2 separate regions of the Homo sapiens genome follow, and region 2 is linked to region 1. Evidence: fine-mapped expression QTL. Tissue or cell type: whole blood. Region 1 holds a variant in brackets; the other region holds the start of a gene. All regions are shown on one strand. Distances are between the middles of the regions.

What was found. PIP is the estimated chance that this variant, and not a neighbour inherited with it, causes the effect.
Region 2: TPPP starts here. The variant in region 1 is fine-mapped to the expression of TPPP in whole blood (TOPMed, PIP 0.98).

What each region holds. Positions count from the first base shown.
Region 1 is chr5:664,320-672,499 of GRCh38, forward strand. It overlaps TPPP (tubulin polymerization promoting protein), which reads right to left. Exons shown (of 4, transcript NM_007030.3): 3 at 1,651-1,804; 4 at 1-977. The coding sequence ends at 783. It also overlaps a transcript of CEP72 not described here. Among named protein-coding and RNA genes, the nearest start is that of TPPP, 25 kb to the right of the region's middle. RefSeq lists enhancers at 1,152-1,321, 4,732-5,486, 6,775-6,944, 7,307-7,476, 8,074-8,180. The variant T/A (reference allele first, on the strand shown) is at 4,838.
Region 2 is chr5:689,198-697,367 of GRCh38, forward strand. It overlaps TPPP (tubulin polymerization promoting protein), which reads right to left and starts at 4,155. Exons shown (of 4, transcript NM_007030.3): 1 at 4,081-4,155. It overlaps LOC101929898 (a long non-coding RNA gene), which reads left to right and starts at 4,343. Exons shown (of 2, transcript XR_925675.4): 1 at 4,343-4,525; 2 at 4,884-8,170. RefSeq lists enhancers at 3,581-4,163, 5,077-5,955 and a silencer at 4,158-4,407.

The DNA of each region.
Region 1 (8,180 bases):
GACCCGCTCTGAGAACATAGGCAGCCACCGCATCTTCTCAGGAAAGCAAAGCGAGCCTACTCTACCCTCACAGTCCAAGCCACTGTGGTCAGCCGGGAAGCCGCCCACTGCCCCTGACGGCTTTCGTTTTACCTAGGTTGCCCTTGGCACAGAGCTGGCCTGTAGGCATGTGTGCACAGGTGTGTCCATGTGACCGGCTTCCCCACACATGTGCCAGGCGCCCAGCACCCCCGCCAGGTGGCCTCACTCTGCCCTCTGCCCAGGAAAGCAGGAAGGCCCCGTGGTGTCCGCTGCACACAGGACAGGCCTCGGGCCCCACAGACACCTCCCACGTCCGGTGTGGGGCCAATTCCGTGTTAGTTGCCTGCTGGTTGGGGTTAGCTCCTGCCACCCTCAGGGCTCCTGGAAGGTGTCTGCCGCTCAGGAGGTCAGCACAGCCTCCTGTTGCCATGACAGCCAGCTGCTTTAAAACGCCCCTTTGACCTGCAAACCACGTGCCCAGTGTGGTGTGATCCGCGAGACACTTTGGAAATGGCTGAGGACGAGGCAGGTGTATTAGGAGGGTCAGCGAACTGGGGCCCAAACCTGGTTTGAGAGGGGAGTGCTGGGGGCATCCGGTAGGAGGAGGGGCAGGAGGGAGGCCTGGGCCTGGCCGCCCCCCAGCCCCCTCTGGGGCACCCGTCTGAGTTCTGCCCCAGTTAGTACAGGAATGTAATGAAGTGCGAGGTGACAGAGTCCCTGCTCTGGGGACACCGGCAGTGCCGCGAGGCATGGAGCGGGGGCTACTTGCCCCCTTGCACCTTCTGGTCGTAGGTGCCTGCGTGCTTGTAGCCGGACACATAGCCTGACTCGTCCACCAGATCCACGCGGCCAGCCTTGCCCTTGCCCTTGCCAGAGGGGTCGAAGCGCTCCTTGTGGGAGCCCGTGAACTTGGTGGTGTCCGTGAGCCTCGACACTGTGGGCGACGAGATGGCTTTCTGCAAGAGGAGCAGGAGGAAGGGGGCAGGTGAGTTGCGAGCCAGGTGAGGCCAGCAAGTGAAATGGCTGTGCCCTGGGCAGGTCTCCCAGCGGTGGGGCACTGGGCAAGGGGCATAAACCCTGGGATTTATGCCCCTTTTAATTCTTATTTTTACCTCTCCTGACCCTGGGGCAGCCTTGGGCCTGCGGGGTGCCACAACCCTAACAATTGCCCAGGTCCACCTGGTGTTTATGTAGTTGGGGACCCCACCACCTGCACCCTCAGAGGGAAGGGGCTGTCAGAACAGCCAGGCCCCACCCTCCAGGCTATGCCCCCCCAATCCATGCCCCTTCAGACCAAGCCTCCCCAGGACCCCCCCAGGCCACGCCGACCTGGCCATGCCTCCCAGGACCCACCCACCCCCTCCCAGGCCAACTCCCAGTCCATGCCCTTCCTGACCACGCCTCCCCAGGCCTCACCCTCCAGGCTATGCCCCATTCATGCCCCTTCTGACCACACCTCCTCAGACCCCACACCAGGCCACGCCCTCCTGACCACGCCTCCCAGGACCCCCCCCAGGTCACGCCCCCAATCCATGTCCCTCCTGACCACCCCTCCCCCAGGCACCACCCACCTTCCAGGCCCCGCCCCCACCCCCTCCAGGCCCCGCCTTCCATCCCCGCCCTGCTCACCGTCACCCCTGAGATGATGGGCGCCTTGCCCTCGATGAGCCTGTGCACCTCGCGAACGGCCTCCTCGCTGCTCTTGTCTTTGAATCGCTTCTTGGCGAGCTCCTCCAGCGCCTCCTGGAACTGCTCAAAGGTGATGGTCCGGCAAGACTTCCCTCTACAGGGGCACAGGCGACTTAGGGCTGGGCGCGGGCCGGCCCAGGGCTGCCCTCCCCACGCGTGGGTCTGAGCAGAGCTGGACAGCCATGGCCCAGCAGCCCACAGGCTTCACCCACAGGCGGCCGCCCTGGTAGCACTGCAAATCCAAACTGTCTTGGAAGAAAGCTTGGCGGAAGCAGGTCCTCTATAAAGCTGGATGCTCACACGGCCCTGCAGGCCGCTCTGACACAGGGTGTGTGCGGGTCTGCACTCTGCTGGGGCAGTGCCGGAGGCCATTAGGCAGCGGAGCCCACCTCCTCCTCCCGGGGCCACCACAGCCCCGCCCAGCTGCGCCGGGAGCTGGGGGTCCTAGGACCTGCTGGGGCCCCGGCTCTGCCTGTGTGTGTTGGGGTCCTAGGTGGAGGTGTCCCCCACACAGGAACATGGTTAGGAGGGGCTGCCGCCCCCGGACACTTGGCAGCATGGGCGCAGGCCCACGCCTCAGATGCCCTGGCTCCAAAACCCGCCAGGCGGCCCCGCTGTGCCCTTGCACTGCTCTGGCCTCAGAGGTGCAGAGCCCGGTGGGCCGGAGGTGCCATGAGAAGCTTCTGGTCACACAACACGCCACATCTAAACACAGTCCACGCCTTACAACATCCTCCCACCACAGGCCATTCAGGCAATTTTAGAGGGTTCTAAACTGACTCTTGGTTTTTATATAATAATTCTAATTAGAAAACATTTTTCTCCTCTGACCAGATCTACCACAACTAACCCAAAGTGGGGTTTTTCAGTGTTTAAAACAAGAGATCCTGTGGATGAGGCTCAGCTCTGCAAAAGGCACCTGCATTTCACCAGGGAAGCCTCTGGACAGCGCGAGAAAGGCTGCACCCAGCAGGCCAAGCATTCCGAGGGCACTCCCAGCTGCAGAATCCACAGTGACCAAGAGTCAGGGGACAAATGACCCATAAAACCCCAGCAAGCCTTTCCAGAAGTCAGTGAGCAGAGGGCCTAGAATAGCCAAAACGATTTCAAGAAATGAGAACAGAGTCAGAAGACTGACTACCCAACTCCAAAGCTCATCGAGGCTTGACTGCAAAGTGGCAGCGACGTGGGCACGGGCACGCGGCCAGCCCCGCAGCCCAGGGGGAGTCTGGCTCAGCCACATGCATGCTGCCCCCCCGATGTCTACAGGTGCAGAGGCAAGCCAGAGAGAAAGGACTGTTTCTTCCACAAGTGGAGCTGGAGCAACTGGTGATCCCTGTGCAAATTAAAATGCACTTTGGTCTATACTGCACACTATATACAAAACTAACTCAAAATAGATGACGGTCCTAATTATGAAACTAAAACTTCTAGAAGAACACCAAAGAGAAGATCTCTGTGACCTGGGGTTAGGCGAAGATTTCTTAGAAATGGCAACAAAACATGGCCTATAGTGGAAAAAATGGATGAACTAGACTTCATCAAAACGTTCGAAACTCTGCTCTCAGAAGACACCGTTAAGGGAATGAGAAGACAAGCCACAGACTAGGAGACATGCCTGAGAAAGGACTTGTCTCTGAGATACACAAAGGAACCTTAAAACTCAGCAGTAAGAAAAAAAATCCATGTGAAAAGACGGGCAGAATATTTGAAGCAGACACCACCAGAGAAGACACGTGCATGCAGACAAGCACACGGAGAGGGGTCCGCGTGGGCCCCATCAGGGAAGTACAGACAAGCACACGGAGAGGGGTCCGCGTGGGCGCCGTCAGGGAAGTACCGACAAGCACACAGAGAGGGGGCCGTGTGGGCGCCGTCAGGGAAGTACCGACAAGCACACAGAGAGGGGGCCGTGTGGGCGCCGTCAGGGAAGTGCGGACAAGCACACAGAGAGGGGGCCGTGTGGGCGCCGTCAGGGAAGTACCGACAAGCACACAGAGAGGGGGCCGTGTGGGCGCCGTCAGGGAAGTACCGACAAGCACACTGGAGAGGGGTCCGCGTGGGCCCCATCAGGGAAGTACCGACAAGCACACGGAGAGGGGTCCGCGTGGGCCCCGTCAGGGAAGTACCGACAAGCACACGGAGAGGGGTCCGCGTGGGCGCCGTCAGGGAAGTACCGACAAGCACACAGAGAGGGGGCCGTGTGGGCGCCGTCAGGGAAGTGCGGACAAGCACACGGAGAGGGGTCCGCGTGGGCGCCGTCAGGGAAGTACCGACAAGCACACAGAGAGGGGGCCGTGTGGGCGCCGTCAGGGAAGTGCGGACAAGCACACTGGAGAGGGGTCCGCGTGGGCCTCGTCAGGGAAGTACCGACAAGCACACAGAGAGGGGGCCGCGTGGGCGCCGTCAGGGAAGTGCGGACAAGCACACGGAGAGGGGGCCGCGTGGGCGCCGTCAGGGAAGTGCAGATGGAAACCACAGCGAGGCCCCTGCACACTCTCCAGGGGGCTCAGACAATCAAATAAACTGCCGGCACCTCGAGCTGAGCAGGCCGCGGGGTGGGGGCCTCGTCCACACCCGGCCGAGCAACGCGGCAGAGCCACTGTGGACAGCTTCTCATCACAGCCAAAGGTGGCCCAGCAGTCCCGTTCCTGGGTCCTTGCTCAAGAGAAATGAAAACAGAGGCTCACACATAAACGCAAATGTTTACCACTGTTCTGCTCGTAGTCACCAAACCCCAAACAATCCAGTGCCCTTCAGCAGCGGCCAGACCACAGTGCTGTGATGTGTGCGCACGTGGACAGCACCCCCACCCCTCGAGAACAAGCCCAGGATACGCACCCAACGCGGTGGGTGCCAAGTGGCCAGGCTTGGAGCCAGGCACGGAGGTGCCGCTGGGTGATTCCCAGACCCCAAGGCGGATGCTGTGTTTAAACAGCACCTGAGGGTTCCCATACACTTTACACGCGTGTCCTAAAGACACAACAGACACCATCAACAGCGCTGAGCCAAAGAAGAAATCGCGCTGAGAAACACACCAAGTGCTCGGGGTCCCACAGCTCAGACCCTCACGCCTCATGGGGTCCCAGGGAGGGGAGCGGAGGCCTCGCTGTGTCCGGAGGGGGCT[T/A]TGGGGAGACAGAGCCCCAGGGCGGGGCCTGGACTGCTGAGGGCAGCCACGCAGGGCACATTCCAGACCCGCCGGCCATAGGGCGCTGTTGTCCAGCAGCATCCCCCAGGGGGCGCTGGTGAGCCCGGTGAGCCGGAGGTGCCCTGGGCAGCTCTGTGGCGTGGGGGTCCGCGGTGTTGGGGGTGGATTTAGCCCCTTGACGCGCTCGGCGTGGACACCCGCACGTTCCCTGTGGTGCTAGAAGAGCCAGGCCACCCCAGGCAGCCCACAGTGCCTGGAACTGACAGTGCCCATTGGGCCCTGTGGGGGTGTTGACTCTCTGGGGCCCTTGGGGCCTCTGTCTGTCCTGGGCCGTCAAAGGCTCTCCTGTCTTCTATTCCCACCCTGCCCAAGCTGACATGCGGACGCCAGGCCTGACTGCCAGCCTGGTGACCAGTGCTGAGGCACGCAGCCCTTTCTGACGGCCTCGGAGCCAGGCACCACCAGCATGAGTCACTCGGCGGGAGGGGGATGGCTGAGGGGCTCCCCCATCAGAGGCGACATTCAGATCCGGACACCTGCTCTGCGCGCTCCCCGAGTGTCTCGGGGAAAGGGCGCCCGGGTCTCTGCCCCACACGGGCGGGGAGCTCTCCCCAGGAGACCCGGGTGCCCCCCGCCTGGGGCAGTCCTCAGGAGTTCTAGGACAGCGGTGCCTGCCTCTTCCCCAGAGACACTCAGTCTGGCTGCCCGGCTCTCCTGACATAGAGTGGGCCTGTCCTCCAGAGACCAGGGTGCTGGAGGAGCCTCCGAGTGTGGAGCTCGGCATCCTCATTGCCCATGCTCTCCCCAGCCCGGCGCCCTGCCCCAAAGCCGGCCCAGCAGGACGCAGCCGCTGCTCATACACGATGCCCTGCGGGGCCTGGACTTGCTTCCCAGGCTCTGAGTCCCCTGGCCTCTGGGCCTGGTTCAGTCTCTCAGGGACACTGGGACCCGGCCTGGGGCCTCCAGGAGCTGGGCTCAGGCCAGGACAGCCCTCCGAGGACTGAGGCCTGTTCCTCCGGGGCGGACGTCACAGGCCCCGCTGGGCTCGGGACTGTGCATCCAGCACCCTTGTGAATCAGGAATGCCCTCCCATGGTGCCCTCTCTGAGGGGCGGGGGCCGGCGGGCGAGGTGACAGCTACCAGCTCCCCTGGGCTCTCTGGGCCTGCAGCTGCTGTGGCTGGAGTGCCCTGTCCAGAGGCTGCCACAGGTGGGAAGCTGGGGGCTGTGGAGGGGAATCTCTGGGGAAACAGCCTCTCCCTGTACTTAGGCGAGTCTGAGAGAGAGGGGCTGCGGCTCCCCCAGGGCACCAACCTCTGGGATCTTCCATTAGCCCCTGAGACCTGAGGAGGCTGGGAAGGACTCCCTGGCTGCTGGGCCCCACGGGGGGAGGGGGAGCTTCTGGGGAGGTTCCTACCTGGTAGGGACGCGGCCTTAGGGGAGCCCTGTCTGGCATCGCCATCCTGCACGTCGCTCCGAGTTCTCACTGCTCCAGGAGGGTCCAGTGGTCCCGTTCCAGCAGGACCCAGCCTTGGGGTTCCCCATGCCTGTTGGCCGCCCCTGCCTCCCGCAAGCCCCAGCAAGATACAGAGGACCTAGAGCAACGTTTCCCGGGGCCGACAGAGGTCGGTGGCAAGCCCTCCAGGCCCTGCCTATTCTCCCCTCATAAGTGACTCCACCAGCAGCTGAGCACCTGGGGGCAGGTGAGGTGATGTCTGGCCACCTGAGAGGGCTTCTCCCCTCATCTCAGGAAACCGGAGCCCTTCCTGCACCCTACTTGGCTCAGAGGATGGATGGCAACGTCCACTGGGCCACGGCAGCTCAGGCCCCAGGGCGGGCTGAGGGCCAGGGCCCTCCCATTGCTGCACCAGCTCTAACCCCAGGCACACCCACCATGAAGCCCCCACACAGCCGGTCGGGGGGCTGCCTGAGCTCCGGAGGTCTGGCTACCGAAGGCTCCCCCCTGCCTGAGGGGCCGCCTGGGATCAGCGCACTGTCTCCCTCTGGGCGCACACCCTGCGCTTGCTGCTAATTAATTTTGCGTTGCTGCCGGCCTTTTCGTTTTCCTGGGGAGGGGCGGGGGTGGGGCGTGTGTAGTCACCGCCCTGTGGACATCACTAGGAAGAGGTGGCCCTTGGTGGGACGTGGACTTGGGGCCCAGAGGGACCCCGGGCAGATCTGAGGGGCCCGACCTTCTCTAGGGGGCCCCAGGGGCTCGGCTGCCTCCATCCACCCCAGTCTCGGCCTGGGCAGGGCTTTGGTCTGTGCACCTGAAGTCAGTTTCTGGCTGTTTGTTTGGAGATCACCTTCTCAAATGACCTGTGTTGCCTGGTCAGGCTCATGGGGCAAAGTGGACAGCCAAGGCCACGCCCACCACTGGCCAAGCGCAGGAGACGGGTGCCTGTCGCCGCACAGTGCTCTGGGGATTGCTGGTGCTGCCCGGCCTGCAGGGTACAGGAGCCACAGGCCTTGACTGTGAGGCCACAAGCTCCTGAACCCTCAGCCACAGACGTCCATGGCCAAGGGTCCCCCCGCAGGGGCTCCACTCTGCGGAAGCCACGTTCATCCTGCCCTGCCAGGCGTGGCCACTAGAGGCTCCCCAAAGACAGAACTGGCCCCAGGGCTCCAGAGCCGCCGAGTGCAAGCCCGGGACAGGGTGGCACCCACAGCAATGGAGGGACAGGGTTGGGTGTGGGGAGTGCAGCCCACCCTTCCCCCGGGCTGGGTACCACGGGGGAGGGGGAGGGGAGCAATGCAGCCCTGAGGCTCCTGGCCCCTTCCAGGGAAGCTGACACCTGCTTTTCTGGGATGGACAGACAGGAGGACGTCACACACAGTGCTCTGAGGACCTCACTTGCCCTGTGGCGGCTGCCCTCCAAACACACTGTGACCTGGATTCTCTCCAAACCTGGGTCCTGCTCCTGGGAGGTGGTTGGGTTGGCTTCCGTACTGGGAACAGTCCGAAGACTTTAGGACAAAGTGTCCTACCGGCCCTCCACACTTGGGGTGACCACAGACCCCAGTGCCGGCTGGCCGGGGGGGTGTACCAGGCTCAGCAGCCCTCCACGCTCGGGGCAACCGCAGACCCCAGGGAGCCTGGCCCTGCTGTTCTCAGTCTCCCACTGGCCCTGGCTTCCTTCTAACCAGCGTCCAGGTATCAGTCTAACCCCCAAGCCAAGCCACCACCCAGTATCCACCCAGGTGTCTATAGGAAACGTCAGTGCATTTACTTGGGAAAATACACCACACCCAGCACACAAGCGTGGGTCCTGGGGGAGGCCAGGGCTCCCAGCCAGCTGAGACCGCAGCCCAGCCCTCCTTCCT
Region 2 (8,170 bases), 25 kb after region 1:
TGAGGGCCCTTGGACCAGGGCCTGGGTTTGAAGCCACCTCCATACCCCATACACGGTGCTCACTGCTCCTGGCCCCATTGACTGATGACTGATGGCCAGAGGGGGACAGCAGCTGTGTGAAGTCGCCTGGCAGGTGCGGCTGTTGGTGGCACTCCCTGGGCGGAGGCCACGTTGGACATTTGTGAACAAACGAGCAGGTTGGGGTTACAGGTTATAGGATCTGGGAAATGTGGTCTGTGATGCCATGCGCCCTGGGGGATCTCATGGAGCCCACATGGGCAGGCACCTTTTATCATGCCAAGAAGTCAAACGTGGGATGCCATGTGGGGAACATGCCCTGGGTGGGGGAATACCCTGGGTGGAGATGCCATGTGGGGAGGATGCTCTGGGTGGGGAATCTTTGTGGGGGTTGTCCTGGGTGGTGGAGCCTTGGTGAAGGAATGGCCTAGGGGGTGGCTCTGGGAGGGGGTGGCTCTGGGATGTGGATGTCCTGGGAGGGGGATGTCACCTTAGGGGGAAAGCCTGTTGCAGATGCCCTAGGAGGGAAGCCCTGTGTGAGAGATCATCTGGGTGGGGGCTGCCCCGGGTGGGGGATCATCTGAGTGGGGGCTGCCCTGGGTGGGGGATGTCCCCGGTGGGGGATCATCCAGGTGGCAGATCATCTGGGTGGGGGATCATCTGGGTGGGGGATCATCTGGGTGGAGGATCATCTGGGTGGGGGATCAACTGGGTGGGGGCTGCCCTGGGTGGGGGCTGCCCTGGGTGGAAGATCTTATCAGGGGGATGCAGTGGGTTATGGCCCTGTGGCAACCCCAAACACACACACACCAAGAAGAAGCTGGTCTCCCTAGGAGGAGGATCCACGCAGGGCAGCTTGGGGTTTGGCTCGTGGATGCTGGGGACAAGGCCTGAGCCCCAGATGTGGCTGGGCCTGACCCAGGCAGCTCCACCCCTTCCTTCCCAGGAAACACCTTTTGCTCGAGCAGTAGGAACTAGGCGTGTGTAGATTCTGCTGCCTGATCCTGGCTCCTGGCTGAGGGTTTGTGGGCTCAGATGGACTAGACACCCGGCCACAACCCTCCTGGGCATAGCCTTCTGGCTCCCCCAGCCCAGGCGGAGGCATTGAGCGACTCTCCTCACCCAGAGTGTTTTCCCGAAGGCGCTTCTGCCTGAGGGCACCAGGCTGGGCCAGGTACTGCAGGGCGCTGACCAGCACTGGCCTGGGGGCCCCAAGAGCCCCAGATGGCATCCCTCTCACACACTCCCCCTGTCTCACCAACAGCTATAAATAGACTCGGCTCTCTGCTGGCACGGCCTCTCCCGAGGAAGCTTTTAATTCTCTGCGTCCTCTGCAGGGGGTGGCTCCCACAGGCCTGGGAGGGAACAGACTGCCTGACTCTCCAGAGAGCTCCCCAGTCTCCATCTGCGATGGGTGATCCTAATTTTCTTCAGGAAGTTCTCCTGAGCCCTGCGTGTGGCGCTTTGGCCTTTGTGCCCACGGAAGCCCCCTGCGGCCCCTCCCTCCGGGCCCTGCCCAGCCCGGTGCACGAACCCTGTTTACCGATTCCCAGGCCTAGGGCAGCCACTGCCAGTGTGAGGCTTGCAAATTAGGGTAGGGGGTCAAAAGGAAGCCCCTGTTGACCATTTCTGTGAGCATTCTATGCTCATTTCCACAACGAGCATTTATAACCTCGTATAATCGCTAAAACATTTATTGCAACTTCAGGGAATTCGGGAAGATAGACCAACCGCAGCTGTAAGATTAAAACGCAGCCAGTGACCAGCGGAGCTTCCTCCACGCACACGCGGTCCAATCCCCATGACTTCATGTTTTGTGAAGATGCAAAGCGAGTTCATGCCGGCGCCTTTCTGAATCAGAGATCCGTTTAGAAACCATGAAAGCTGCAGACCCCTCCCGGGAAAACGCACACACCCTCCTGGAGCTCGCCTTCTGCAGCCGCTCCGGGAGCCCGCCCCTCCCCCACAGGCCCTCCGAGGATCACGTGGTGGGGAGGCGCTGGCACCGAGCGGCTGACAGGCGCGAGAGCCCAGTTCAAGGCGGCGGCATCAGGCTGCAGCTGCCTCACTCCCCTCCACTTCCTGCCCCTTCCCGGCCTTGGTCCAGCCCCATCTCCTAGTCCCAGGCCACAGGGAGCTGGGTCACCTCCCAGGGGCAGGGGCTGGCTGGGCGTGGGGGGAGACCTCTCCCCCTGAGAAGTCAGGCGGGGAGGGGTGGCCGGGGTGGGCGGAGGGGCCCAGTCCTCTATCGGTCCCCCAGGGGCCCTGCAAGCAGAAGAGCCAATAAACATGCCAGGTGGATCAGCGGTGACACTGAGAGGGAACGCAACACCCCATCAAAACAGCAGCCCCCCAACCCCCATCAAAACAATAGCCCCCAACCCCCATCAAAACAGCAGCCCCCAAACCCCATCAAAACAGCAGCCCCCAACCCCCATCAAAACAGCAGCCCCCAAATACCCATCAAAACAGCAGCCCCCCAAACCCCATCAAAACAATAGCCCCCAACCCCCATCAAAACAGCAGCCCCCAACCCCCATCAAAACAGCAGCCCCCAAATACCCATCAAAACAGCCCCCAACCCTCATCAAAACAGCAGCCCTCAACCCCCATCAAAACAGCAGCCCTCAACCCCCATCAAAACAGCAGCCCCCTAAACCCCCATCAAAACAGCAGCCCCCCAAACCCCCATCAAGACAACAGCCCCCCCAACCCGTATCAAAACAGCAGCCCCCAACCCCTCATCAAAACAGCAGCCCCCAGACCCCATCAAAACAGCAGCCCCCCAACCCCTATCAAAACAGCAGCCTCCCAACCCCTATCAAAACAGCAGCCCCCAACCCCCTATCAAAACAGCAGCCCCCCTAAGCCCCCATCAAGACAGCAGCCTCCCAACCCCACATCAAAACAGCAGCCCCCCAGACCCCATCAAAACAGCAGCCCCCAACCACCTATCAAAACAGCAGCCCCCAACCCCTATCAAAACAGCAGCCCCCCAACCCCCTATCAAAACAGTAGCCTCCCAACCACCTATCAAAACAGCAGCCTCCCAACCCCCTATCAAAACAGCAGCCCCCAAACCCCTATCAAAACTGCAGCTCCCAACCCCCTATCAAAACAGCAGTCCCCCAACCCTATCAAAACAGCAGCCCTCCAACCCCCTATCAAAACAGCAGCCCCCCAAACCCCTATCAAAACAGCAGCCCCCAACCCCGTATCAAAATAGCAGCCTCCCAACCCCTATCAAAACAGCAGCCCCCCAAACCCCCATCAAGACAACAGCCCCCCCAAAACCCTTATCAAAACAGCAGCCCCGCCACTGCCCGGGAGGGACAGGCTTCTCACCTCCCTCGGCTCCGTTTACGTAACCGAAACCGCAGAATAAAGGGCTCCTCAGATCTTCGGGCGCTGCTCCCAGGGGTGCGGGAAGGTGTCCCGGCAGCGCCTCTCCATCGCCACAGGCCCGCGGACAGTAGCCAAGACCCGGGGCAGCTGGAGGCTCTGCGGGGGGCGGTCTGACAGCCCCACCTGCCAGGACGCGGTGGTGTCAGGACCCTGAGATGGGCCGTTTCTGTGGCCAGGGATCTCTCAAAACCTGCTGCGGGCAGTGACTTCATTCCAGCCCTCCACGCCCTAATTTCCCACGCCTCACACCGGCGGCCCCCTAGGCCTGGGAATAGGGAAACGGTTCGAGTCCCGAGCTGGGGAGGGTCTGGAGGGAAGGGCTGCAGGGGCGTCCGTGGCCGCGAAGAAAGGCCAAAGCGCCAGGCACAGGGCCCGGAGACGGTGACAGACCTGTCCCTGGCGCGGCCGACGGTGACCCCCGCTCGCGGCCTTTGCAAAGCCTCCCCGTCGCGTCCTCGCACCGAGCCCGCAGCGCCGAACTCCGGGCATCCCAATCCGGGGGCTCAGGGACGCGCGGGGCGGTCCGGGAAGGGGGCTCGGGGGAGCGCGGGGGGCAGGGGCTGCGGCGCAGGTGGCTGCTGGGGCTGACGGGCCCAGTCTCCGCCCCCGGGTGCCCCCCGCGCCGCGCCCGCGGGACCGAGCCCCGCGCCCGCTTACCTTGGAGACGCAGCGACTGCAGCGGAGGCGCCTCCGCGACTCGGCCGCGCGCGACCCGGTGCTCAGCGGAGCTCTCCAGCCGCCGCCCCGCGCCCGCCCGTCCCGCCCAGCACCGCCCAGCCCCGCCCAGCCCGGTCCCGGGCCCGCCCCCGGCCCCCAGCGTCCGGCGCCCGCCCAGCGTCCCGCCCCGCGCGCTCATTGGCAGCCCCGCCCCCGCCGCCCCACCCGGCCCGGGGACGCGCGGGCGCACCGAGACCTCTGCCTTACAAGGCCGACTCTGCTCAGGCCCCGCGGACCGCCGGGTATCCGCTCAGCGCAGGGCGCGGCCGACCCGCGGGTCGTGGGAACCGCTGGGCAGGGGGCGGCGGGGCCCCTCACCTGGCTCTGGGGCCCCCCGGGGACGACCGGACCCCGATCTCTCCGCCCCGCAGGACGCGCGTTGACGGTGCGGCGGGGGATGGATGAGCGCGGCCGCGGCCTCCTGGGGTGGGGTGGGTTGGCGGCGGGGCCTCGAGGACGGTGCGGGGCGAGCCCCGACCGCGCCCAGTTCTTTAAGGAGCCGCAGACGGTGCAGGGAAGCGGCAGGGCCGGGCTGTGAGGGTGCTCGGACCCCAAGGCGGGGCGCACCCAGGGGACTGGGCTTCCAGGTGGGGGCAGCGCGGCCGGGGATCGACCTGAGCAGGGAGACGGGTCCGTGCCGGGCGCCCAGCGCAGCTGCTCGGGAGTGGGCCGCCCTTCACGCAGGAGTGGAGGAGCGGAGCGCGCACCCCTGACCCCGGCCTCAGCTTCCGTTCTCCCTGCAGGTCGCCCGTATGCAGCGCCACCATCCCGGCCGCTCTTCCAATCTCGCCTTTCTCCGGGCACCTGCCGCCCCTCCCCCGCTCCCCAGACAGGCTTTGCGGAGGGGGCTCATTCCGCCCGGGGCTGCCCGGCCCTCCGCAGGAGTTGGCTCCCCACAAGGTTCCGGGGCCGAGATGACAGGGCGGTTCTGTGGTGCTGGGTGCTGGGACTTGAGGGGCATAGGGGCACCTGCCCTGGAGGAGGCCGAGGCGCAGCCCCCCAGGAGGAAGGGGTGCCTCTGGTGACTTTCAGCTGGACTCTTCCAGCTGGACTCTAGTGCAGCTGAGCTCCTCCCCCAGCCCCGGCTCTGTCCCTGCACCAGGTGTCCAGCAGGCCCTGGAATCCGCAAAGGCAGAAGGGGAAGTTGGGGTGCTGGGTGCTGGGCAGGGGGTGCTGAGGCCTCACAGCCCGGCGGCTTGGCCCCCACCCACCCCACGGTGGTCCCGCGCCCCACACTTCCTCTCCTCTCCTGTGGTTTCTCCTTCCACTCAGTGCTGCCCAGAGATGGGCTTCTGTCTAGTTCTCCTGAGAAATTCCACACTCGCAGCTGGGAAGTCGGGGGACCCCCGAAGCTGTGCGGCGGCCACGCTGCGGCTCCTGCTTCCCTCCTGCTCGGGTGCGGGCTCGGCTGCCTTCTCGTCCCGCGGAGCCCGGAGTGCCTCCCCCTCGGGTAGATCCTACTAACAGCATCAAAGAAATAATGAAATAATCTCTCCTTGGTGTGTTCTTACCGTCCTAATAGGCACAAGGGGACTCTTCAGTGCATTTTCCAAAACCTGTACAAACTCTCTTGACATAAATGCAGTGAGTTTACAATAAAATCGCAGTGGGAGGTAACGTCAGGCTTCAGAGGCAGACATGGTCCTGGAGCCTTTGGGAGGAGAGGAGAGGAGAGGCAGCGGGCGCGGGGCGGCGTCCAGGGGGCTGAGCGAGGTCTGGGCAGGAGGACAGAGCTGAGCCTTGGGCTGCCCTGGCCCCTGCGCAGGACACACAGTGACCGGGGCTGGGGTGGGCACCCCGGTTCTACCGTCGGGAGTCGGCGTGTTCATGGAGTCTGTTTCCTTGTCTGTGGGTGAAACTTTGGCTTGGGGTCACGGGTGTGTTATTTCCCAGCGACAGTCGGTTCAGTCAGCACTTACAAAATCACCAGAAACAGGGGCACAGGATCTTGCTCAGCAGGGAGAGGTGGATCCTGATTCGGGACTCCAGGCTCTTCACCTGGCCATGGCTGCCCGTCCGGTGGCCCTTCCTGGCCCCCAGCTCTTGCTCCACTGCCAGACCTGGACAGCCTCCATTAACCCTGCAATTACTGAAAACCGACTCACAGCCAATGATGTGATCCACGCCAAGTGTCCCGTTATAAGATGTTTCCTGGGGATCCTTAGAAAATCACTACAAATGGGTTGAACAACAGGGCTTTCCTCTTACGGCTTAGGAGGCCAGAAGTCCGAGATCAAGGCCTGTGCGCTCCGGAGGTTCCCACCTCTTCCAGCTTCTGTGGCTCCAGGCGGTCCTGGGTGGTGGCCGCATGGCTCCACCTCTGCCCCTGTCCTCACGGGGCCTCCTCCCCCGAGTTAGTGTGTCTGTCTCTTCCTTTGCTTATCGGGACACCTGTCACTGGATTTAAGGGCCGCCAGGAGAAGCTGGGATAATCTCAAGATCTTTAATCGAATTACATCTACAAAGATCCTATTTTAACGTAAGGTCTTACTCTGAGGTTCCGGGTCAATGTGACTTTCTTGGGTGGGGGTCACTACCACCCCAGCACCAATGCTTTTCCCAGCTCCACCTGTGTTACCGTGTCAGTGACCAGGAGCGTTCCCCGGGACACCTGCCTGCTTGTAGCTGTTTCCACGGCTTCCTGCACAGGTTCTGCGTCCGCAGTTGGGAGCACCAGGCCAGGCAGCTGTCACATAGGAGGAGGACAGCTCTCCGGGACAAGCCCCTGCTGCCTGGCACCCGCGCCCACCCCTGCCTGGGTTTGGGGTTGGGTTTTGTGGGTAGAGGTTCAGGCTGACAGTGGAGGTTGGGAAGAGCAGACACAGCATGGTGGGTAGCACTGGAAGCCCTGGGTGGAAGGGATGGTGGGAGATGCTGGGCCATCTGGGTCTGCAGTGGGAGACCAGGACAGGAGCCCAGGTCCATTGGGAGGCCCCATGCTGAAGACAGAGGCACGGGGAGCGGGGGGAGCAATGGACTCACGCGGACAGCAGCAGACATGAAAAGGCCTCCGAGGCCAAGTGTGAGGATGCCGGGTCCCAGCACTGAGGTGTCCTGCAGCTGGACCTGTCAGGTGTCCACCCACCCCTGGCAGCTGAATGTCCTTTGACGGCCTATAGGCTGAGCAGCTTCTTTGGGCCCCGTAGGGGTGTGTCCCACAGCAGGTGAGCAGTCAGGGCCCCTTGAGAACCCTAACCAGCTCCTGTGTGGGCCCTGGGCTGGGGACAAGCTACAGCCTAGGTGCATGAGGTCAGAGGGGGTGGTCAGTGAAGTAACGACGTGCCTGCCTGGGTGTGGGGCCTGGGAAGCCTCATGGGGGTGTTGAAGCAGCTCCCATGGGTCCTTGGCAGCTTAGGGAAAATGTCTGCCGGGATGTGTGTGTGCACCTGTGTGTGAGAGTGTGAGAGTGTGCACATGCATGCGTGTGTTTGTGCATTCCTATGTGTGAATGTGCACCTGTATGTGTGAGTATGCATGCCGGTGTATGTATGTTGGTATGTGTTCAGCTGTGTATGTTCAGCTGTGTGTGTGTCTATTTGTGTGTCTCTGTGTGTATGAGTGTGTCTGCGTGTGCCTGTGTCTCTGTGTGTGCATGTGTGTTTGCACCTGTATGTCCACGTGCCTGTGTCTGTGTGTTTGCATGTGTGTGCATGTGTCTGTGTGCCTGCGTGTGCCTGTGTGTGCATGGGCCTGTGTGTCTTTGTGTGCATGTGTGTGTGTTTGCACCTGTGTGTGTGCACGTGCCTGTGTGTGTTTGGGCTGTGATTGCATCTGGTTATTCTGGGGGTGGAATTGCTGTGGAACATGGAATTAAAGTGCAGGTTCCGGGTCTTGCTGCCAGGGAGCGACTCTGGCCCCCCTATCACACACCTGTGACCCAGAGAACGGCAGGTGAGCCTTGCGGCTTCACTGTTGCCACAGGTCAGGGGCTGATGAGGAGGGGAAGCCAAATGGGGGGTGTTCAGCCCTAGGCTGAGCTGCTTGGAGCACATTCTTAATACGCCAGCCATCGCTACCTCAGTTCCACAGC